Linked DNA regions of Homo sapiens: regions 1 and 3 are each linked to region 2. The links come from fine-mapping of genetic effects on gene expression. A gene starts in region 2. Each other region holds a variant in brackets. All regions are shown on one strand. Distances are from middle to middle.

Region 1 (8,045 bases), 170 kb after region 2:
GGTACATCATGAAATGTCAGGAACACCAGGGATAAACTGAAGATCCTAAAATCTTTCAGAGTGGGAAGAAAAAGGGAATGAGGATTAAAATGACATTGGACTTCTCAATAGTGACACTGGAAGCTAATGGAACAATGTCTTCAAAACAGTCACATTAATTTTCAATCCAGATTTTAACACCAAGCTAAACTACCATTCAAGAGTGAAGGTAAAATGAAGGCATTTCCAGACATGTAACTTCTGAATTCAGGAAGGAATTTCAGATTTTGTATGTACCCTTTCTCAGGAAGCTACTCAAGAATAAGGAAGACACAGGGTCCAGGAAATAGAAGACCTAACACAGGAGGAAGGCAAAGGGAATTCCCAAGATGATGACAAAGGGAAGTCCCAGGATGATGGCTATGCAGTAGTCCAGGGAGCAAACAATTCCAGACTGGAGTAGGAGAGAGGGGGCTCCAGCAGGACCATCTCCTGGGGAAAAGATATGAAAGTGAGTGACTACCTGAGAATATTCAAAGATAATCAGTTTTGTCATAGAGTTTGAATGAATTAGTGACTGATACAAAGAAAACTCAGCAAATGAAAACCAAACAAACAAAAGAGGCAATTATTTAATTCAGGAGCAACAAAAGTTGTTCAAGAAGAAAACACAGTAATAGCACCCTACGTGGCTCAACTGTGAATAACAGGTACACTGTCAGTCATATAAATCCTGAATACCGACCTAACTGTCAAGTATGAGTGGGAAATGGAAGGATAGTTATGTGAGACAGTTAAGTCTTCAACTTCCAAAATAGAAGTCCACAGAGAATATCCAAAAGTGAAGAGCTAAGAAATAGCAGTATAAACATTAAAAATGAAATAAGTATAAAGGTAAATACCAAAAGAAACCAGTAAGAGTTGAGAGTGGTTTAACTATATAATATATAAGACTGCTGATTTTGATTTTTTCTCAGTCTCAACATGGCAATTTCATATGATTCAAGCTAACACATTGTAATAGCATTATTACTGATCTTAGAATAAACTCCCATTTAAAACAATAAACAATTATTGGCCGGGCGCGGTGGCTCACACCTATAATCACAGCACTTTGGGAGGCTAAGGCAGGCAGATGGCTTGAGGCCAGGAGCTCAAGACCAGTCTGGCCAACATGGCAAAACTCCGTCTCTACTAAAAATACAAAAAAAAATTAGCCAGGCGTGGTGGCCAGTGCCTGTATTCCCAGCTATTCGGGAAGCTGAGGCATGAGAATCACTTGAACCTGGGAGACGGAGGCTGCAGTCAGCCGAGATCACGCCACTGCACTCCAGCCTAGGGGACAGGGTGAGACTCCATCTCAAAAAAAAAAAACAACAAAACACCCAAAAAACAAAAAAGCAATTATTGATAGAGAATGCTCAATGGAAAAATAAATTACTTTTTATTATGAGACATTACTGGGAGGATAATAGATCCTAGTTAACAAAGTGTTACCATCTATGCTCTTACCATCACTAACATAATATTACTATTCTAATGAATAAATATTTACTATTAAAACAGCACTTAACATTATTTTATCTATTTTAAGGATCTAAAAGTTAGTTTAGATTTTTTCTTCAATCATCATACTACAGAATGCTAAACTATGGGTTGGCAAATACTTTGATTAACAGAATGCTGAATAACAAGGCCAGGCTGTGTTTAGGTTCCTTTGTTGATATTAAAAATAGCTAAGTCACTCTTGCAAAATTAAACTTCCATGAAATTGCGATACTGTGCAAGCTTATTTCAGTGATAATTCCGGTTATGCTACTCTGTTTATCTAAGACTTCCCCTTACGGTTTGTTTTAAGGAGACTCCTAAAAAATGTCTTATGCAGTCAAGACAGGCAGTTTATAAATGTACTGGGTTACTTCAACATTAGTGACTTTAGTTAGTAAAGCTCTTGTTTTTTTTTTTCTGCTTCATTTTTCCTTCATAAAAGCCTTGTTTTAAATTAACTTATCTGAATTAAATTAATTGATATTAAGATTTTATTTAAATCATGCATTAAAACCAAAACATCCCCAATTGAAAAATCAACTTTCATTAATTTTTTTTTACTCTTACAAAAAAGAATTTGAACGTGGTAAGAATTTTACTAAGAATAATGTATCCTGAACTGACCATGGAAAATTTCCCCTTCAAATTAAAAGCAAATGTTTTAAACAGAGGGAATATACATAAACAGATGCTGTGGAAGACTGCTTAGTTTACATTTCATTTTCCACTGAAAACTACTAGGAATTAAAATACATGTGATTTTTAAAAATATTACAGAGAATCTTAAAGAAAACAGAACCCATACAATTATTCATATCATCCAATATAAGCGCCTCTTAATTTTTTAAAACCGCTATTTTGAATCCAAAGATCATAATAAAAATAGCTTTTTTTTCAGACGGAGTTTCGCTCTTGTTGCCCAGGCTGGAATGCAATGGCGCGATCTAGGCTCACTGCAACCTCCGCCTCCGGGAGTTCAAGCGATTCTCCTGCCTCAGCCTCCCGAGTAGCTGGAATTACAGGCGCTCGCCACCATGCCCGGCTAATTTTTTGTATTTTTTTAGTAGAGACAGGGTTTCACCATGTTGGCCAGGCTGGTCTCAAACTTCTGACCTCTGGTGATCCACCCACCTCGGCCCCCCAAAGTGCTGGGATTACAGGTGTGAGCCACCGCACCCGACCCATAATAAAAATACCTTGGAGGTGTGTTTCTTGTAAATGAGTGGCTAATTTCCCAACACCCTGTAAAAGTATATGGGTAAAAAGAAACTGAAAATCATCATGCAACCAGAGTTAACAACTATCTTGCAAAATTCATATCATTTGTTTTAAAACCAAAATAGCAAGGAAGAGCTGGTGTTATCCCAATAGCCTCTTTTTAATTGGTCTACAACAACTGCAACTCTTCATAACTTTACCAACACAACAAAGTCAGGCAGGCAGTCTGACAGAGTCAACGTTTGTGGGAACCTACAGCGCTTCCTTCTCTCTCTGGAGATGAGGACAATGAAAAAAGGTGTTCTGTTTTCCAGTAGTCCTGTAAGAGGAGCCATTGAGCTGGGCTGTACAACCAGACAACAGAACACAGGAAAATTCACATCAAAGCAAGGGCGCATGCCAGGGTAATATGCAATAAAACCCTCTGCCAAAGCATTAAGGGGAAAAAAAAGCAAGGAGGTAGAGAGAACCTGCTGGACTACCTTCTCATTAACACAGGGAGGCAGAAAGAAACAAAATCTGCCTGTATTCAGGAGCGGAGAAAACTGTGTCCTAGATATATTGGAGTATTCCTATAGACATGTTTATGAGCATTCGGACAAATTATCAATGAACTAAACCCAGAAAGCAGTGTCCTGTACGGTGGAGTATTCCTATGTAGACAGACATGAGAATCTTACCATTAACTAAGCCCAAAAAGGCAAAGTATTCTAGAAACACAGATATATGAGAATTTAGATGCACATTTCCAATGAATAAAACCCACTGGTTTTACAGTGAGAAAAAACTGTTTGAAATAACATCAGGTAAAGAATTGGGTAAAGGTGTGATGAAGTTATATCCCCTCCCCTTTTCCTCATACCCTTTTTGACAATCTCTGATTCTCTCATTTCATAGATGTCCCTTTCACTTGAATGCGCACACACACACACACACACACACACACACACACACACATCATTAGGTCTCCAGAAACAAAGGAGGGTCCTTAATTCTCCGGCCTGTGGAACCACACACGCCCCCTGCCCACAGATGGTGACTTTCATTAATGAGTAAGCCGAGGGAAGAGGTCTCCACCCCGACCACTGCCATGCACACTGTGACAACGGGGCACGAGACAAGCGCCACAAAGAAAGGGGAGGAGTGGACGGGGACCAGGAAAACACTGCCACGCCGCACCCCCCAAGGCGCGCGCCCACCGCCAACGCGGGGGCAGCGTCCTCGCCATCCTCCTCCTAGCCTCCCAGCTC[A/G]TCCCAGCCGCCTCCCACGCCCGGGGACCCGATGCCAGGGCTTGGGCGAGCAGGACGTGCGGGGGCCCACGCACCTTCCCTCCGTGATCTCCAGGTGACAGCCCCGCTCCGCCCTTTGTGAGGGACTCACCCTCCAGTCCCGGGGCCGCGCCGGACCCTCCTCCGCGTCCCTCCTCAGCCTGGAGACACCGCCTCACCCCTGCACACCGCGCCCGGCCGGCCGAGGCGCCGGGAGAGTGTGTGTGTGTGGGAGGCTGGCGCGGGCCCGCGGTCTCCTCAGCATCCCGAACCCGGAGCGGCTCGGTCCCCCAAACCCCAGCCCGGGGGCGGCGGCCGCGGCGCTCCCGCCCTCGCTCGCTCACTTACTCGGGCGCGCCGGTGGCAGCGGCAGACGTGCGGGACCGTCAGCGCCCTGCGGCGGGCGGCAGGCTGCGGGCGGCGAGCGTCCGTCCGGACAGAGCGCGGCGGAGGTGGCGGCGGCTGACTGCGCCCGGCGGCCCCTCGCGAGGGGCGGGCCCGCCGGGGGAGGGGCGGGCGCCGCGCCTCTCATTCATGCAGCGGGGGCGGGGTGAGGGACCCGGATGCCCGGGCAGTTTCCCCACCCACCTCGGCGGAGGGCTCGGCGGCTTCAGAGTCTGCAGTGCGCAGGCGCGGCGCTCCCTGGCCAGGCCTGGTGCGGCCCTGGCCGCTGGCTCTGTTCCTGGTTAGAACTACGCCAGACAGGCCGGGCGAGGTGGCTCACGCCTGTAATCCCAGCACTTTGGGAGGCTGAGGCGGGCAGATCACGAGGTCAGGAGATCGAGACCATCTTGGCTAACGCGATGAAACCCCGTCTCTACTAAAAATACAAAAAATTAAATTAGCCGGGTGTGGTGGCGGGCGCCTGTAGTCCCAGCTACTTGGGAGGCTGAGGCAGGAGAATCGCCTGAACCTGGGAGGCGGAGCTTGCAGTGAGCCGAGATCGTGCCACTGCACACCAGCCTGGGCGACAGAGCGAGACTCTGTCTCAAAAAAAAAAAAAAAAAACAACTACTCCAGACAGACCTTCTCCATCGACCGTTTAGTATTTTTGCGTGCCCTACAAGCATTTTTAAAAGTGAAAGCATGGGGCCGGGCGCAGTGGCTCACGCCTGTAATCCCAACACTTTGGGAGGCCAAGGCGGGTGGATCACCTGAGGTCAGGAGTTCCAGACCAGCCTGACCAACATAGAGAAACTCTGTCTCTACTAAAAATACAAAATTAGCTGGGTGTGGTGGCTCATGCCTGTAATCCCAGCTACTCGGGAGGCTAAGGCAGGAAAATCTCTTGAACCCGGGGAGCGGAGGTTGCAGTGAGCCAAGATCGCACCATTGCACTCCAGCCTGGGTGACAGAGCAAGACTCCGTCTCACACACAAAAAAATGAAAGATTGGAATGCCACCCCTTTCCTAGCATGCAGATTGACAGTCCCCAGAGACACAAGAATGGTCACGTGGTGCCCATTGGTTTGATGGGGAGATGGTATGCACCGCACCCTCCTCCATCTGCCCCTCCTGCTGCAGCCTCTCAGCTGAGTGCTAGAACCTTGGTGATGGATGAGACCTAGACTCTGCCCAGATAGTGGAGAGAGGTGTGTGCAAGAAACAGTGCATTCCTTTATTTACATCCACTCCTCAACCTCCGGCTCCCATTCTACAGGGCAGGCAATAAATTGACCTCCGATTTTGGGAGGCTGAGCTCTTCCTGCAATACCAAGGCAAGGATCTGGGGAGTCCTCTCTTGTCTTTAGCAGGCAGTGTATTCTGCAGATACTCTCTTGTTCCCATCGCCTTGTGTCTGCCACTCCTGGGGTACGGAAGTTTCTGGAGAGGCTAGGAGCCTGCAGAGGGAATGGCTGTGAAGCTCCACAGCTGACTGTGTGTGCGCTGCAGCTCAGAGCTTGCAAAAATGATTGCCCCCTCTTCCTCAGTCTCCATGTGTCCCCCAGAAGTTCTCCTTCCTTCTCCTAATCTCTCAGGCCCCATCACATAAACCATAAACAGCTCAGTAGCTTAACTTTGGGAAGCAAAAGTCATCATGGCAAGCGCCTAGAGGCATGTTCCTTCTGCTTTGGCAAACCATTAACCACCAAGGCAGGGAGGAAGTAAAGAGGGAAACATTAGTGAATTTCTCAAGAAGTCACCTGCCACCCAATGGTCACAGTCCCCCAAAGTGAGAGAAGGGTGGAGGCATGTGCTAGGGAGACTGTGGCAAAAGGAAGGGAGTGGGAGACCCAGGCTTCCTCTAGAGCTGCCTGTGCCAGGGCTGTGCTGGGGGAACACTGCCCTCCTTGCTGTCAATCATAGCAGTTACCTGGAGGGTCTTTTCAACTTTGCTTTGCTCAAACCTCTCACTGTTCTAAATCAGCCCCCTCATCTCTCCCCTGGGCTGTTGCAGAAGTCTCAATCCATTCTCATGCAAATCGATTCTCATGGTATTCAAATCTGCCTGTGTTTCTGTCTTTTTCTTTTTCCCTGCCCCATCTGGCTCCTTGAGCCTTATTTTCCAGCCATTTACAGAACAGCACCATGGTGTTTCACCTCAGTAGTCACCAAGGTGACTGCTGTTTCCTGCTGTTCCCCTACTAGGAAAGCAATACTTACCTAGCATGCAAAAGTTGCTCTTTTCTCTGAAAATCCACAGATGCTTTTTAGGGCAGTGAAAATACTCTGTGTATGATACCATAATGGTGGATACCTGTCATGACACATTTGTCTAAATCCATAGAATGAATAATACCAGCAGCAAACTCTAATGTAAACATGGATTTTGGGTGATAATGATGTGCCAATGTAGGTCCAACAATAGTAATAAATGCTCCCGTGGGAGAATGTTTATAATGGGGGGGCTATGTATGTGTAGGGGGGAAGGGCTAGTTGGGAACTCTGCACATTCCTCTCACTTTTGTGGCAAACTTAAAACTGCTCTAAAAAAAAGTAAAGTATTTACAAAGTCATTTTTGATAAAGTATTTTTTTCTGCCCCCACTTATTGACAGACTTTCCTTGAGAATCCCCACCTGTGCCCTGTACCCACTTCCCTCTCAGCACTAGGCACCCTCCAAGGTCCCTGCTCATTTGCATATTTTCTTACCACACCAGCATGTGAGTCCTTCATCAGCAGGATCAGTATCTCCCAGGACCTAATATGTGACTGGCACATAGTGGGTCTGCTGTGGCTATTGGTGGAGGTGATGTTCCCTGGTGGGCTGGGGAGGCTCCACAGGAGAAGGAAAGGCTGAGCTCCTTTTCTTTCTTCTTCCTTATTTTGGCTTCCTTCCTCTGCCCTGCGTTTGGAAACCTGTTTTGTTTGTTTGTTTAGAAAGCTTGGCTAGTAATTCACTAGTCCAATCAGGCTGTAGGGTAGAGGATGGAGTGGCTCATTTCATGTCTTTTGTTCTTGAAAAAATTAGGGGTGAGTGGGAAAGAGAATGAGAGAATGAACGGAAGGAGGAGGGGCCGTGTCCAGTTGCTGTTTTCAGGGAGACTCATCTTATTAAAATTTTGCTGTGTCATCAACTGGCCCAACTGGTTTTTAGGGTCAAGGAGAAAGTTTTCCTTTGGGACTGGACAGGTGGAATCTGGCCTCACAGTTTCTACAACATATGGCAGGATCCTGCTCTTCTGTCCCCTGTAGCGGGTTGTCCCGTGTTCCCCTTAAGGAAGAAATCACAGTTTTTGTCCTCCTGGTGCTTCCGGCTGGAGGTTCACCTGCTAGTCCCTGATCCTCTTTGCTTAGTGATGCACATGAGTCTACTCATCCCCCCACCACTCCCAGCCCCCACTGGTCTAGGCAAAATGCAAGTGATGGGAGAGTGTGGGTGGGCAATTCTTTCTCTGGAGGGTTTAGGTGGGTACCTCAAAACAGCAGGCAGCTAGGACTTGAAGTGGTGGCTTCGCAGCTAACATTTTCCTTGTTCCACATGATGGGTAGGGGTAGGGTAGGGAAGACTTCACTGTTTGGAGTTTCGGAGGATGCCCCTCTTTCTCTTTATCCTTCCTCCCCACAGTCCCCTCCCATCTCCTCCCTTAT
Region 2 (8,045 bases):
TATTTTTTTTGAGATGGAGTCACTCTGTCGCCCAGGCTGGAGTGCAGTGGCATGATCTTGGCTCACTGTAACCTCCGTTTCCTGGGTTCAGGCAATTCTCCTGCCTTAGTCTCCTGAGTAGCTGGGATTACAGATGTGTGCCACCATGACTGGCTAATTTTTGTAGATGGTGGCATTATGAATATGGATTTTGGTTTTCATCATCAAATATTTCTGTTTTCCCCACATTAGCTGTAAACAGTATATATTTTTGGTAAATTAAGTTGAAAGAATGAAAAAATTAAAATAGTATAAAGAATATCTGTTTAAGTGCAGTGGAGTGTGCCTGTGGTCCTAGCTACTTCGGAGGCTTAGATGGAAGGATTGCTTGAGCCCAGGAGTTCAAGACCAACCAGAGCAATGTAGCAAGACTGTGTCTGTTTTATTTTAAAAATAAATAAATAAAACATAAAGAATAACTGTTTAAAATACTATTCAAAATGAAGTCATAAAGGAGGGGATTATGTTTTTTAGTCATAGTTCCCTCAAGGGCTCAGACCGGAGAACATAACCGAGTTTGGAGCCCTCTGGCACTGTCTTTGCGCCTGACCTCTGCTCTCCAGGGGGTGACGTGAGCTGGTGGGTGCTGAGTCATCATGGGTGGGTCACAGCCTCCCTCGGAGGCCTGGAGATGGGCCTGTCTGTGCTGAACTTTACTGGGCAGGGGGCAGCTCCAAGGCCCTCACTGGGGGCAGCCTAGAGCATAGATCACTCTCTGGACTTGCTCTTCTCCTAATAAATGGACAGTGATCAATGAATTACACCCATGAAATAGGGTGGGATGCAATAAGAAATAAAAGATAATATAAATAGCCAGATAGGGTCAAAAGATGATTTATTTTACTTTATATTTTTGAAATAATTTCAGATTTACAACATAGTTGCAAAAATAATGCAAATGTTTACATCTTACATAACCCAGTACAATGATCCTAACACTGACAGATTGTTGTTGTTGTTGTTAATTTGAGACAGAGTTTCACTGTTGTTGCCCAAGCTGGAGTGCAATGGTGCGATCTCGGCTCACTGCCGCCTCTGCCTCCCGGGTTCAAGCGATTCTCCTACCTCAGCCTCCTGAGTAGCTGGGATTGCAGGTGCCCACCACCATGCCTGGCTGATTTTTGTATTTTTAGTAGAGACAGGGTTTCACCATGTTGTCCAGGCTGGTTTCAAACTCCTGACCTCAGGTGATCCACCCACCTCGGCGTCCCAAAGTGCTGGAATTAGAGGCGTGAGCCACCATGCCCAGCTAGATTATTGTTAACTGATCCAAAAGCCTTATTTGGATTTCACCTGAAGTCCTTTTTCTGTTTCAGGATCCAACCCAGGTTCCCATATTGCATTCAGTTGTCATGTCACTTTGGTGTCCTTTTCTCTGGAGCAGTCTCTCAGTCTCCTTGTTTTTCCTGACCTTGAAATTTTTGAAGAGTTATTCTGCAGAGCAGTGCTATCCAATAGAACTTTCAGTGATGATAGAAATGCTCTGTTTGGGCCTGACGCTGTGGCTCACACCTGTAATCCCAGAACTTTGGGAGGCTGAGGCAGGCAGATCACCTGAGGTCGGGAGTTTGAGACCAACCTGGCCAAGGTGGAGAAACCCCGTGTCTACTAAAAATGCAAAATTAGCTGGGCATGGTGGTGCATGCCTATAATCCCAGCTACTCGGGAGGCTGAGGCAGGAGAATCGCTTGAACCTGGGAGGCAGAGGTTGTGGTGAGCCGAGATCACGCCATTGTACTCCAACCTCAACAACAAGAGTGAAACTCTGTCTCAAAACAAAACAAACAAAAAAAATAGAAATGCTCTGTGTCACCGAGTATGAAGCCATTAGCTACATGAAAATAGCATTTGAAATGTGGCTCATGGGCCAGGTGCAGTGGCTCACGCCTGTAATCCCAGCACTTTGGGAGGCCAAGGTGGGTGGATCACTTGAGGTCAGGAGTTTGAGACCTGCCTGGCCCATATGGTGAAACCTCGTCTCTACTAAAAATACAAAAATTGGCCGGGCGTGGTGACATGCGCCTGTAGTCCCAGCTACTCGTGAGGCTGAGGCAGGAGAATCACTTGAACCCGGGAGGCGGAGGTTGCAGTGAGCCGAGATTGGGCCACTGCACTCCAGCCTGGGTGAAAGAGTGAGATTCTGTTTCAAAAAAAAAAAAAAAAAAAAAAAAGAGAAATGTGGCTCGTGGGTCTCAGGAACTGGCTTCTAAGTATTATTTAATTTTAATTAAAATAGCTACATGTGGCTAGTAGCCATTGTATTGGATAGGACAGCTGTCAAATGTCTCTCGTTTTGGGTTTGCTTACTGTTTCCCTATGATTAGTTTCAGATCATGAGCTTTTGATAGGAATACCATAAGCATGTTGTTGTGTTCTTCTTTGTCTAAATCTTTATAAAAGCTGTTGATAGGTGGCAGGGAACCACCTAGTCAGGCAGTGGGATTGTTTGAATGCTCTTTGAGGTCCAGCAAAGACAGGAGTGATAGCTGCACTTGGAAGCCCGCTCCTACACTTTCAATGTTCTTCCTGAAAGAATTAGATATGAAGCTGCTAGAGCTGCTCCGGTGGGGAGCAGGCAGGATTGATTCTTGAACTAATCAACATTTATGCCCTCTTGGCTAAACTAGGCAGAGCTGGTTTTATTACAGTTCAGGTGTGATTAAGCATACTTTGTAAATGCTGAAGGTTGTGAAATATTCACAGGGATATAAAGTACAGTAATAAAACCTCACTTGAGGCTGGGCGTAGTGGCTCACGCCTGTAATCCCAGCACTTTGGGAGGCCGAGGTGGGAGGATCACCTGAGGTCAGGAGTTTGAGACCAGCCTGGCCAACATGGTGAAACTCCGTCTCTACTAAAAATACAAAAATTAGCCGGGCGCAGTGGCATGTGCCTGTAATCTCAGCTACTTGGGAGGCTGAGGCAGGAGAATTGCTTGAACCCAGGAGGTGGAGGTTGCAGTGAGCCGAGATCGCGCCATTGTACTCCAGCCTGGGCGACAGAGCATGACTCTGTCTCAAAAAAAAAAAAAAAAAAAAAGAATAGAAGACCCTGTGCCTGGAAGATCGTAGGTGCTCAGTAAGTGCTGGCCTCTGCCCCAGAAGGGGAAGGGCGAGGCAGATGGCAGGAACTGCGGGAGGTACCTGTCCCAGGCCCTTGGGCGTAAGAGGCCTCTCCCACGCAGCACCCAACCCATACCCAGCCTGCCCGCCAGCCAACCTTGGCGTCCCTGCCTTGCGCCTACCTACCCAGCAGTCCCCCGCCCGCTCCCACTCCCACAGGCCCAGCGTGCACGTCTCCAGGATAGGCATCCTTGCCCCTGTGACTTCAGCGGCACCCAACGTTTATTGGGCACTAACTGTATGCCAGGCCATGGGGGTGCCGGAGAGAACGACACGAAGACCCTCACCCCTCAAAGTTCCCAGGGGGAGGAGGGGCTGCTTCACTTGGGAAGCGTGGGGATGGAATTCTCAGCCCCCCGATGACTCCGAGGCCGGCCACCTGCCTGGTTTCTGGCCGGACACCGGACTTCCCCTGGAAGTTGCTCGAGACTGCGCGCCCCCAGCAAAAAATCAGGTCGGTTCTCCGAGCCCAGTCTAGCGCTTCCCGACCCGCAAACCAAGGCCCAGTGACCGTCCCCGCTGCGCAGCCGCCTGCGTCGCCAGCCAACCACGCGCGGCCGAGTAGCCCCGCCCCTCCACATGGCCAATGGCCGCGCGCTCTGCCCGCCCCGCCTCCTCGCTGCGGGAAGGGTCCTGGGCCCCGGGCGGCGGTCGCCAGGTCTCAGGGCCGGGGGTACCCGAGGTAAGATCGCTTCCCGGGCGTTGGGTCCTTTCGGCTCAGCACGCACGGACGCCTTTAGGGAAGGTGGCTGCAGCGGCAGGACGGAGTCCGCCGGGACGCCCTGGGTCTGGGGTGCGCGGGGGGCCCAGGAGGGGACAGGACGCGCGGGGATCCGGAAGAGCGGGCCCTGTCGCAAGAGTTTCGGGAACACTGAGGGCTCCAGGCGCCGCATCCAGCATCCGGGGAAAAGGGGGTAGGTGGCGCTGGGCGTCTGCTCAGGCTGGGGGAAAGGTAGGGCCAGAAGGGGACGGGCAGCGGCCGCTGACCTCCTCCTGCCGCCCGCGGGCCCAGGGTGACGCTAAGGTGGGGCCGAGCCTCGACCGGGTGCGCCTAGAGGTCGAGTGCTGCCGCCCTCCGCTGGGTCTGGACAGTTCTCGGCGGCGACACCAGCTCAAAACGGCCTCCCCGCCCTCCGCGGACCTGGGTCGCGCCCAGGAATCCGATCCAAGGCTGTGAGGCCTGTCCCTTTGGGAAGGGTGGGTGTTTATTTCCGGGATGCACTCAGAGCCTCTGGACAGTCAGGTCGGAAACTTTGCTGTATTGGGAACACTCTGTCACCTACTTCCTTCTCAGTTGGGAAGGAAGTGCCAAGAAAACATGAAACAAACCAAAAACACGAAAAAGGGATTCTCTGTATGGAAGCCGTGAAGCCTCAAAAATATCTAGGAGGACAGCCAGCGACCTGGGACCTGTGGCAGCCATGTGAAAGCAGGGTTAATGTCTGGACTAAATGTTGCTTCCACCTAAGTGCACCCTCAGCCTCCCTCCCGCCAAGTGACCTTGGGTCCTCTTTGGGCTTGAAGGCAGGTGGCTGTGTGGGTCTCGCTGCAGGGGTCTCTGTGCCCTGCAAGGTGTATGACCAGTTGCAGTGAGGCAGCAGGTTTTGGGTTCAAATCCTGTGCTAGCCTCTGGCCAGCTGTGCACCTTGGCAACACTTTCCCTGTCACGGGATTGGGGAAGGATTAACTGAAAGAACCTTAGGATGTGCCTGTCTACAATGGGCCCTCCATAAATGTGAACAAATGTGGGCTTCCTTTCCTTTTGTTTGGGCCACATCATCCCTTCCCCTCCATCTGTGGCTGAAGCTGGAATGCAGAAGAGTGCCTCATCTGACTGCCTTCTGGTACCTGGCTGATGCCATGAGAAAGGAAGGAGAAAGGGGTCTTTTTTTTTTTGAAATGGAGTCTCACTCTCTTGCCCAGGCTGGAGCGCAGTGGTCCAATCTTGGCTCACTGCAACCTCTGCCTCCTGGGTCTAGAGATTCTCCTGCCTCAGCCTCCTGAGTAGCTGGGACTACAGGTGTGTGCCACCATGCCTGGCTAATTTTTGCATTTTTAGTAGAGACGGGGTTTCACCATGTTGGCCAGGCTGGTCTCAAACTCCTGACCTCAAGTGATCTGCCTGCCTCGGCCTCCCAAAGTGCTGGGATTCCAGGCGTGAGCCACCGCGCCCGGCCGAGAAAGGGATCTATTAACTCCCATAGAGTTGTTCTTTGCTAATTTCTTGAAGGCTCAGAGGACCCCCGCCTCACCTTCCTGATTCTCCTGACCTGTCATTAGTACTTGCCCCACGAGGAATGTAGCAGGGCCTGCTGGCTGGCAAAGCAACTCATGCATGTGAGGCTCTGAGGCCAGTGACAGGACTGCTTCCCCTGTGAGGAAGGTCTGGTGGCCCAACAGCTTTTAGGTGCTGTCTGCTCTACAGCACTGCCTCCTGAGAGAGGTCTCATGCCTGCCTGATGCCCACTTGGTCCTCTCCTGCCTCCTTCCCTCCCTGACAACCCACTTGGAATCCAATAGCATCTCAAACTTCACTTGTTCCGAACTGAGTTCTGGAGTCCCTTCTGAGCCACTGCTCCTCCCCTGGCTTCTCTGGCCTGGTAAAAGGGCACCTTCCATCCACCCAGTGCCCAAGGAGTCATGCTTCTTTTCTCTCCCTTATCTCCTACACCCTCAAAACACCAGGAATCTGGCTGCCTCCTGCCATCTCTGTGGTTCCCATCCTGACCATAGTCATCCTGTCTCCTGGGCTGTGGCCTCCTTACTGGTCTCCCAGTTTTCATCCTGGCCCCTCCAAAGTCCTCACAACCACCAGAGAAGTCTTTAATGTAAATCAGATCCTCTTCTTTCCCTGCCGGAACCTTCCAGTGGTTCCCTGTTTCACTCCAACTAAAACCCAGAGTCCTTTCCTACAGCACTCTACATGAGTGGCCCCTGCCACCTCCTTGACCTTGACAATCTCTGCCCCTTTCCCTAGCTTGCTTGCTTTTTTTTTTTTTTTTCCTATGATGGAGTTTTGATCTTGTCACCCAGGCTGGAGTGCAATGGGATGATTTCAGCTCACTGCAACCTCTGCCTCCTGGGTTCAAGCGATTCTCCTGCCTCAGCCTCCCGAGTAGCTGGGATTACAGGCGCCCACCACCATGCTAATTTTTGTATTTTTAGTAGAGAAAGGGTTTCACCATGTTGGCGAGGCTGGTCTCAACCTCCTGAGCTCAGGTGATCCACCCGCCTAGGCCTCCCAAAGTGCTGGGATTATAGGCGTGAGTCACGCAGCCAGCCATCCCTAGCTTTCTTGACCTAGACCACACTGACCTGCTTTCTATTCTTCAAACATGCCAAGCTCATTCTTGTTTTAGGACTTTTGCATTTACCATGCTCTCTGCCTAAAACACCAATCTTCTCAGAGCCTGAGAACAGCTCAGCTGTGTTCTGCACGCTAGTTCAGAAAGGCTTCTTTGACCCCCTAGTTCAAGTAGCATGCCTGTCTCCAGGGGCTCTGTCTCATTACCTGCTTTACTTTCTTTAGAGCCTTTATTGCTATCTGGAACTCTTATTTGGGTATTAATTTACTGATCTGTTATTTGTCCCACCCCATTAGAATATAAATTGGATGTGGCATAGACCTTGTCTCTTTTATTCCCTGCAGCACTCCCTGATGGGGGCGGCAGAAAAGTAACGAGCAAATACATCTATAACTGCAAATTGTGGTAACTCCTACATAAACAACTGGCAGCAATTGCTTATATTTGAGGCACTTAAAAATTTTTAAGCTGGCTGGGCGCGGTGGCTCATGCCTGTAATCCCAGCACTTTGGGAGGCCGAGGCGGGCAGATCACGAGGTCAGGAGATCGAGACCATCCTGGCTAACACGGTGAAACCTGTCTCTACTAAAAATACAAAAAATTAGCCGAGCGTGGTAGCAGGCGCCTGTAGTCCCAGCTACTTGGGAGGCTGAGGCAGGAGAATGGTGTGAACCCGGGAGGCGGAGCTTGCAGTGAGCCGAGATTGCACCACTGCACTCCAGCCTGGGTGAAGGAGCGAGACTGTCTCAAAAAAAAAAAAAAAAAAAAAAAAAGAAATTTTTTTAAGCTGCTGGGCGCGGTGGCTCACGCCTGTAAATCTCAGCACTTTGGGAGGCCGAGGTGAGCGGATCACCTGAGGTCGGGAGTTCGAGACCGGAACATGGTGAAACCCTGTCTCTACTAAAAATACAAAATTAGCGGGGCGTGGTGGCTCATGCCTGTAATCCCAGCTACTTGGGAGGCTGAGGCAGGAGAATCGCTTGAACCCAGGAGGCAGAGGTTGCAGTGAGCCGAGATCGCGCCATTGTACTCCAGCCTGGGCAAAAAGAGTGAACTCCATTTCAAAAAAAAAAAAAAAGGCCAGGCGCAGTGGCTCACGCCTGTAATCCCAGCACTTTGGGAGGCCGAGGCAGGCGGATCACGAGTTCAGGAGATTGAGACCATCCTGGCTAACACGGTGAAACCCTATCTCTACTAAAAATACAAAAAATTAGCCGGGTGTGGTGGCGGGCGCCTGTGGTCCCAGCTACTCGGGAGGCTGAGGCAGGAGAATGGTGTGAACCCAGGAGGTGGAGCTTGCAGTGAGCCGAGATTGCACCACAGCACTCCAGCTTTGGTGACAGAGCGAAACTCCGTCTCAAAAAAAAAAAAAAAAAAAATTTAAGCTTAGAGGCCGGCCACAGTGGCTCAGCACTGTGCAGGCCAAGGCAAGAGGATCACTTGAGGTCAAGAGTTCGAGACCAGCCTGGCCAACATGGTGAAACCCTGTCTCTACTAAAAAATACAAAAATTGGCCAGGCGCGTTGGCTGGCGCCTGTAATCCTAGCAACTTGGGAGACCAAGGCAGGCAGATCACCTG
Region 3 (8,045 bases), 29 kb after region 2:
TTTCTTTTAGCCCAAGGCTATGAAGGCCTCATTCGGTGCTGGGCATGGTCACTCCTAGCATTCCTCACTCTGTTGCTAACAGCAACAGCAATAATAATAAGGGTTACAACTTACTCCATACCTTACTGTCTGCCAGGCATTAAGCTAAGTGCTTTACATATATTAAGTCATTTAATCCTCATAATGACCCTATGAAAGAGATACCATCTCAACCCAATTGACAGCTGGTTTGCAAGATTAGGAGGGATGAAGGACCCAGGGGACAATGCGAGGGAAAACTCTGACCCCGGGGCCCCAGGCTGGATGTTCTTTATGCCTGTGAACCACAGCTTATCACATGTCTGGAGTTAGGGACCCCACTTAAAGTGAGATTTTGGCTGGAGGTGGTGGATCATACCTATAATCCCAGCACTTTGGGAGACCAAGGCAGAAGGACTGCTTGAGGCCAGGAGTTCAAAACCAGTGTAGGTAACAGCTAGACCCTATCTCTACAAAAAATTTAAAAATTAGCTGGGTGTGGTGGTATGTGCCTCAAGTTCCAGCTACTCAGGAGGCTGAGGTGGGAGGATCACTTGAGCACAGGAGTTTGAAGTTACAGTGAGCTATGATGGCACCACTGCACTTCAGCCTAGGCAACAGAGGGAGACCCTGTCTTTAAAGTACATAGAGGTTTTTCACACCAACACATCTCTGCCCAGTGTGCCAACATCTGCCACCTGCTATAATAGTACTATAACACTCAATATGTAATTAATGTAGTCTCAGGGATGTTATGACAATATGATTACAACTATCACGTGTGTGCCCAGCCAGGCTCAATGCCCCAGGCTGGGCGAGGTGGGGCAGGGGACACAGCCTAAAATGCCAGGCCTCAGGAAGCCATTTGGTTTAGCAGACATTGTTTATTAAAGGAGTTACCTATGCCAGATCGAAGGCCTAAGATGATTAAGACACTATGAGTGCCTTCAAGTGGTTGGGGACGTTCATGATTGTGGTACAGACAAATAGGCTTTCACATCATTCTTTTATGTAATCATACAACAGATATTTGCACCTACATGTGCAGAGCACTGTGATAGGCCTCAGTGACACAGAATAATACGGCAAAGACCCCACCCGATGAGCCCCCTCCCACCACCCACCAGTACAGTAGGGGGTGGTTTAATGGAGTGTTCCTGGAATATGAAGTGGGGGCAGGCATTAGGGGTGGCAAAGGGACAAGTGTTTATCTGATCAGTTATGTACTGTTTATAATAAGTAAATCAGCAGAGGGGGAATAATACTTAGAACCTATAGAGAGTAAATCTGACAAGATGAAATGCTGATGAAAATATGGAGGAAATGAAACTCTCATGGGTTTTGCAGGGAATCTAAGTCAGTGCTGTGTTGTGAATGTAGGTGTACCCTTTGAATTCATATGTTGAATCCTAACCCCCAAAGCAATGGCATTAAGAGGTGGGGCCTTTGGGGCTGGGTATGGTGGCTCATGACTGTAATCCCAGCACTTTGGGATGCTGGCAGGGGGCAGATCACTTGAAGCCAGGAGTCTGAGATCAGCCTGGCCAACATGGTGAAACCCCATCTGTACTAAAAATACAAAAATTAGCCAGGTGTGATGGCGTACATCTGTAATTTCAGCCACTCGGGAGGCTGAGACAGGAGAATAGCTTGAACCCAGTAGGTGGAGATTTCAGTGAGCCGAGATCGTGCCACTGCACTCCAGCCTGGGTGACAGAGCGAGACTCCATCTCAAAAAAATAATAAAGATGTGGGGCCTGTGGGAGGTGGTTAGGTCATGAGGGTGGAGATCATGAATGGGGTTAGCACCTTATAAAACAGGCTTGAGGGAGCCCTTCTGTCCCTTCTACCATGTGTGGATGCAGTGAGAAGGCACCGTATCTCTGAAGCAGAGAGCCCGCCCTGGACACTGGATCTGCTGGCACCTTGATCTTGGACTTCCCAGCCTCTAGAACTGTGAGAAATAATTTTTTGTTGTTTACAAATTACCCAGGCTAAGGTGTTTCATTGTAACCTGAATGGACCAAGCTGGTGTGACCCTGTTGGAAAACTGGCAGTATCTACCAAAAGCCGAACATACGTATAAACTGATCCAGCAGTTCCACTCCTGGGTATGTACACCACAGAAAGCTATGTCCACCGAGACATTGGCAAGAATGTTTCTAACCACACGCTGACTGTAGCCCCAAACCTGAAACAACCCAAATGTCCATCCACCAACCCAAATGTCCATCCACAGTTGAAGCTACAGTGAAGTCACAGGGTCGAATACTACTGCACAGCAACGAATATGAATGAAAATATCGCTATGCACAGCAACATGGATAAATTTCACAGACATGAGGTCAAGCAAAAGAGGTCAGAGTCCTCATCATCAAGAGAGAATTCATTGTATGATTCTCTTCCTACAAAAAGTACAGAAATAAGCAAAACTGATCCATGGTGTTAGAAGCCAGGGGAACAGTTAACAGGGGAGGGATACTGGGGAGGGGCATCCTGGAGTGCTGGTCTACCTCATCTGGGTGTTGATTTCACGAGTATTGTCAGTTTGTTTCCAGACTCCCTGTTGGAGATGTGGAAATAAAAACCACCTAAACAAGAGCAGAGAGGCCATTTGGTCAAAGTTTGCAAAGGAGTCAGCCATGATTGCTTGTATTTGGCAGGGGTCAAAGGCAGGCAGGGACTGTGAAATGTTATAGTGGAAAAAAAGGGAAGGCTCTGGGTGTGCTGTGATTGGAGATTGTTGGCATGGGGACAGAGCGGACTAACTGGAGGGGCATCTTTGGTTGGTTGGGGGGGTATATTTGGCTTTCTCTGGTTGGTCTGGAGTTGGAAGAGGGGGTGTGGTGGCTGGGGATTGGGAAGAAGCTGGCAGCCACTAAGTTCAGACTGTTCTGGGTCCGATTGCTGCTGAGGCTGTGGTTTGGCTTCCTTGGCTTCCCAGGCTGGTCATGGGTTTCTGGCCAGAGTCTATTGTCATATGTGGCCTGGCCATTGTCCAGTTGTATGTTCAGTCTCTTGGAAGGAAGGGTATTGACTCTGAGAGGGGCCACCATCGCTGGAATGGGGGACACACAGTACTTCCTCCAGCTGCCTACACCCCCCTAGGGTCAGTGGCGCCTGCCTGTGAGGGTGAGCCCAATGGCTAGAGGGCTCTGCTCCAAGTCATTGCTTACTACACCCACAAACATTCTTCGTTCTTTAAGGCCTAACTTAAAGCCCAGATCCTACAGGAAACCTTGATTAGACCCCTCTCTTTATTAAGCTTCCTAAGATCAAACCCTGCTTTTGTGTAAATGCTGACCTCCTTGCCTACATTTTAAAAACCTAGAGCTGGGCATGATGGCCCCAGCCTGTAATCCCAGTGATTCAGGAGACTGAGGTGGGAGGATTGCTAGAAGCCAGGAGTTCGAGACCAGCCTGGGTAACATAGCTAGACCACATCTCTTAAAATAAAATAGTTAATTTAGCCAGGCATGATGATATATGCCTGTAGTCCCAACTACTTGGAAGGCTGAGGTGTGAGGATCTTTGAGCCCGGGAGGTCGAGGCTACAGTAAGCTATGATCTCACCACTGTACTCCAGCCTGGGTGACAGAGCGAGACCCAGACTCAAAAAATAAAAATAAAAACCCTGAATATCTTCCTTCTACTTCTTCAGTGCTGTTTTTATTTAAAAAAAAAAAAAA[C/A]CAGCCAAAACCACAACTTTTTACTGAAGTGTAATGTAAATGCTGTAAAAGGCAGTGAAAGGCACAAGGGAGGTGGAGGGGTAGGAAGGGTGGAAGTGGCGGGAGGAAGTGGCAGGGCAGGCAAAATGAAGGGAAGCCCTGGGTTCTTGTCCTGCATCCGCAGCCAGCTCCCACTTTCCTCACCCTCCAGGACCTGTAAACTGTGAGGCTGGACCAGTTATGTCAAATCTGTCCTCCCCCAGAGCTCAGTCCCTCTGCCCTTGGGTGTCCTTGGCACAAGGCAGGCTAGGCTGCACCAGCTTCCTCCATCTCCGTCCTGCCTCCCCCATCCCCAGGTGCCATTCCCACACCATCTGAATCACTGATTTCCTCGCAATCAGACGCTATCTTCCAGTTAATCACTTCGCTTGTATTTAACATAAGAAAGAAAAACCCTTTCATTATCACATACAGCTGGAAATCGGCTTCTTGCAGGAGGCGTATCCAAAGGAATTGGAGAAGAGATAAACTGGTAATTGGTGAAAGAATTACTTTAATTTTTTTTCCTACTTGCTGTCATGATGATGTCCTTAGAATTGTGAGCCCGTGGACACTTCTGTACAATAAATCTGCTATTATTACTTCTAGAACTACAGTTATAATGGTCTACAATGGCCAGATGCCTGCTTGTAATGAGAAGCTACTGCAGTGAAGATCAACAGAGTCAGGGGGCTTGTCTGTGACCTCTCCTCCTTTTCCCTCCTGCCTTCTCCCTGGGGATGGGTGGGTTTCTACTTAAAGACAAGCTCCCAGCTCTCAGACAGAGAATGTATGAGAGCAAAACAGAAGTCACAGTCCTTTGGTACTTAATCTTGAAAGTGACATCCCAGCAGTTTTTTTTTTTTTTTTTTTTTTTTAAGACAAGGGCATGCTCTATCGCCCAGGTTGGAGTAGAGTGGAGTAGAATGTCTCACTGCAGCCTCAAACTCCTGGGCTCAAGCAATCCTCCCACCTCAGCCTCCTGAGTTGCTGGGACCAGAGGCACACGCTACCATGCCTGGCTAACTTTCATGATTTTTAGTAGAGATGCGGTCTCACTGTGTTGCCTATGTTAGTCTCAGACTGCTGGGCTCAAGTGATCCTCCTGGCTCAGCCTCCCAAAGTGCTAGGATTACAGGCAGGAGCCTCTGCATCCACTCCCATCACTTCTGTAAATTGCAGTCAAGGGGCAATTTACCCAGAAGTAGGAACCACTGGAAGCACCATTATAGCAGCTGCCTCTTCAGGAGGGGAATTTGATTCTGTCCTACAAAATGACATATGCATGTGTTTTTTGACCCAGCAATTCCATTTCTAGTAGTCTAAGCCAAAGATAACATTGGCAAAAATAAAGATATATGTCCAAGGCTAGTCATTATAGCCCACTGTGTAAATAGCAAAAGACTGGAAATAACTCAGACAATGTCCATCTACAGAACATTGGCAATAAACCAAGGTATATCTACATTGGAGTGCTATGCAGCTGTGAATAGAAATGAGTATCTCTATACTGCTATGGAGTGAACTCCATGATGTTTTGCTAAGAGGAAAAAAAAAGTGGAAAACTGTATATATAATATAGAATCTTTGGGCTGGGTGGTGGCTCATGCCTGTAATCCCAGCACTTTGGGAGGCCGGGGCAGGTGGATTATGTCAGGAGATCGACACCATCCTGGCCAACATGGGGAAACCCCGTCTCTACTAAAAATACAAAAAAATTAGCTGGCCATGGTGGTACGCGCCTGTAGTCCCAGCTACTCGGGAGGCTGAGGCAGGAGAATCGCTTGAACCTGGGAGGCAGAGGTTGCAGTGAGTCACGATCACAGCACTTCCAAAAAAAAAAAAAAAAAGACCTGACTCCAGTGGACTGAAACTCATCAAATAGGCTTTTAAAATCCATGAGTTGGCCAGGCGCGGTGGCTCACGCCTGTAATCCCAGTGCTTTGGGAGGCCAAGGCAGGTGGATCACGAGGTCAGGAGTTTGAGACCAGCCTGGCCAACATAGTGAAACCCCGTCTCTACTAAAAAAAAAAATACAGTCCGGGTGCGGTGGCTCATGCCTGTAATCCCAGCACTTTAGGAGGCTGAGGTGGGCGGATCACCAGGTCAGGAGATTGAGACCATCCTGGCTAACACGGTGAAACCCCGACTCTACTAAAAAAAAAAAAAAAAAAAAAAAAAAAATTAGCCAGGCATAGTGGCAGGTAGCCTGTAGTCCCAGCTACTCGGGAGGCTGAGGCAGGAGAATGGCGTGAACCTGGGAGGCGGAGCTTGCAGTGAGCCGACATAGCGTCACTGCACTCCAGCCTGGGCGACAGAGACTCTGCCTCAAAAAAACAAAACAAAACAAAACAAAAATAAGCTAGACGTGGTGGCACGCGCCTGTAGTCCCAGCTACTCAGGGGGCTGAGGAAGGAGAATCGCTTGAACCCGGGAGGTGGAGGTTGTGGCGAGCCGAGATCACGCCAGTGCACACCAGCCCCGGCAACAGTGTGAGACTCCGTCTCAAAAAAAAAAAAAAAAAAAAAAAAAACACCAGGCATGGTGGCGCACGCCTGTAATCCCAGCACTTTGAGAAGCCAAAGTGGGTGGATTCTATGAGCTCAGGAGTTCGAGACCACCCTGGGCAACATGGTGAAACCTCCTCTCTGCTAAAATAGAAAAAATTAGCTGGGCGTGGTGGCACTTGCCTGTAGTCCCAGTTACTCAGGAGGCTGAGGCAGGAGAATCGCTTGAACCCAGAAGGCGGAGGTTGCAGTGAGCCGAGATCGCACCACTGCACTCCAGCCTGGGCAACAGAGTGAGACCGTCTCAAAAAAAAAAAAAAAAAGCCACCAGTTCATGATAATACTAAAAAGAATTCATTGTTGACCTCTAGAGGATGCCCCAGGAAACCAACTCATTCTGAAAACTGGTCAGTAAAGGGAAAGAATTGATCCTGCCTTTTCTATTTGAGTAGTTCCAGCTCCTCTGGAGGCTGAGGTTGAGGTACTTCAGGATAACAAAGAGTTGATGAGGGAAGATTCTTTATAGAAATATTCCAGTTAGGCTGGGTGCGGTGGCTCACACCTATAATCCCAGCACTTTGGGAGGCCAGGCAGGTGGATCACTTGAGGTCAGGATTTCGAGACTAGACTGGCCAACATGTTGAAACCCCATCTCTACTAAAAATACAAAAGAAAAGTAGCTGGGTGTCGTGGTGCACAGCCGTAATCCCAGCTACTCGGGAAGCCGGGGCAGGAGAATCGCTTGAACCTGGGAGGAGGAAGTTGCGGTGAGCTGAGGTCGTGTCACTGCACTCCAGCCTGGGTGACAGAGTGAGACTCTGTCACACACACACACACACACACACACACACACACACACACAAATTCCAGTTAACCAAGCATAGAAGAAACTACCTGATTAGAAAATTACGGTAGGGGCTGTAGCCCCTAACGTAAGTAGTTAATGTTATGAATTTCTCTTCTCTTGATGAGATGAATAAAAAGTAAATAGTGAGACATGGTGGCTCACACCTGTAATGTTTTCACTTATAAGTGGGAACCACTTTGGGAGGCCAAGGTGGGAGGATCGCTTGAGGCCAGGAGTTTGAGACCAGCCTGGGCAACATAGTGAGACCCTTGTCTCTAAAAAAAAAAAAAAAAAAAAAATTAGCTGGGCGTGGTGGTGCACACCTGTACCTCCAGGTACTTGGGAGGCTGAAGTGGGAGAATTGCTTGAACCCAGGGGTTTGAGGCTGCAGTAAGCTGTGACTGCACCACTGCACTCTTGCTTGGGTGACAGGGTGAGACCCCGTCTCAAAAACAAAACAAAAATAGAAAAATAATGTTTAAAAAGGTAAATAGCACCTGTGAAGAATTCTTTTAAAGAAATCAAACCTGGGCCAGGTGCGGTGGCTCATGCCTGTAATCCCAGCACTTTGGGAGGCTGAGGCAGGCGGATCACCTGAGGTCGGGAGTTCGAGATCAGCCTGGCCAACATGGAGAAACCCATCTGTAATAAAAATACAAAATTAGCCAGGTGTGGTGGTGCATGCCTGTAATCTCAGCTACTCAGGAGGCTGAGGCAGAAGAATCGCTTGAACCTGGGAGGCGGAAGTTGTGGTGAGCTGAGATTGTGCCATTGTACTTCGGCCTGAGCAACAAGAGTGAAACTCCACCTCAAAAAAAAAAAAAAAAGGCAAAGCAATCAAATATAATATGTTAATATGTTGATCTCATTTGGAAACTAAATTGATTTTTTAAAAAATTTACTTAAGAGACTGGGTCTTGGTATGTTGCCTAGGCTGGACTCAAACTCCTTGTGTCAATCAATCCT

Evidence for each region. PIP is the estimated chance that this variant, and not a neighbour inherited with it, causes the effect.
Region 1: its variant is fine-mapped to the expression of MAVS in whole blood (INTERVAL, PIP 0.99).
Region 3: its variant is fine-mapped to the expression of MAVS in whole blood (TOPMed, PIP above 0.99).

The regions. Positions count from the first base shown.
Region 1 is chr20:4,011,076-4,019,120 of GRCh38, forward strand. It overlaps RNF24 (ring finger protein 24), which reads right to left and starts at 4,483. Exons shown (of 6, transcript NM_001134337.3): 1 at 4,362-4,483. RefSeq lists a silencer at 3,990-4,589 and enhancers at 4,473-5,405, 5,609-6,210. The variant A/G (reference allele first, on the strand shown) is at 3,996.
Region 2 is chr20:3,843,061-3,851,105 of GRCh38, forward strand. It overlaps MAVS (mitochondrial antiviral signaling protein), which reads left to right and starts at 3,774. Exons shown (of 7, transcript NM_020746.5): 1 at 3,774-3,843. RefSeq lists enhancers at 557-701, 1,690-1,829, 7,784-8,045, a cis regulatory region at 624-634 and silencers at 3,191-3,240, 3,671-4,050.
Region 3 is chr20:3,871,783-3,879,827 of GRCh38, forward strand. MAVS (mitochondrial antiviral signaling protein) reads left to right here. Exons shown (of 7, transcript NM_020746.5): 7 at 1-4,336. Among named protein-coding and RNA genes, the nearest start is that of PANK2-AS1, 13 kb to the right of the region's middle. The variant C/A (reference allele first, on the strand shown) is at 3,708.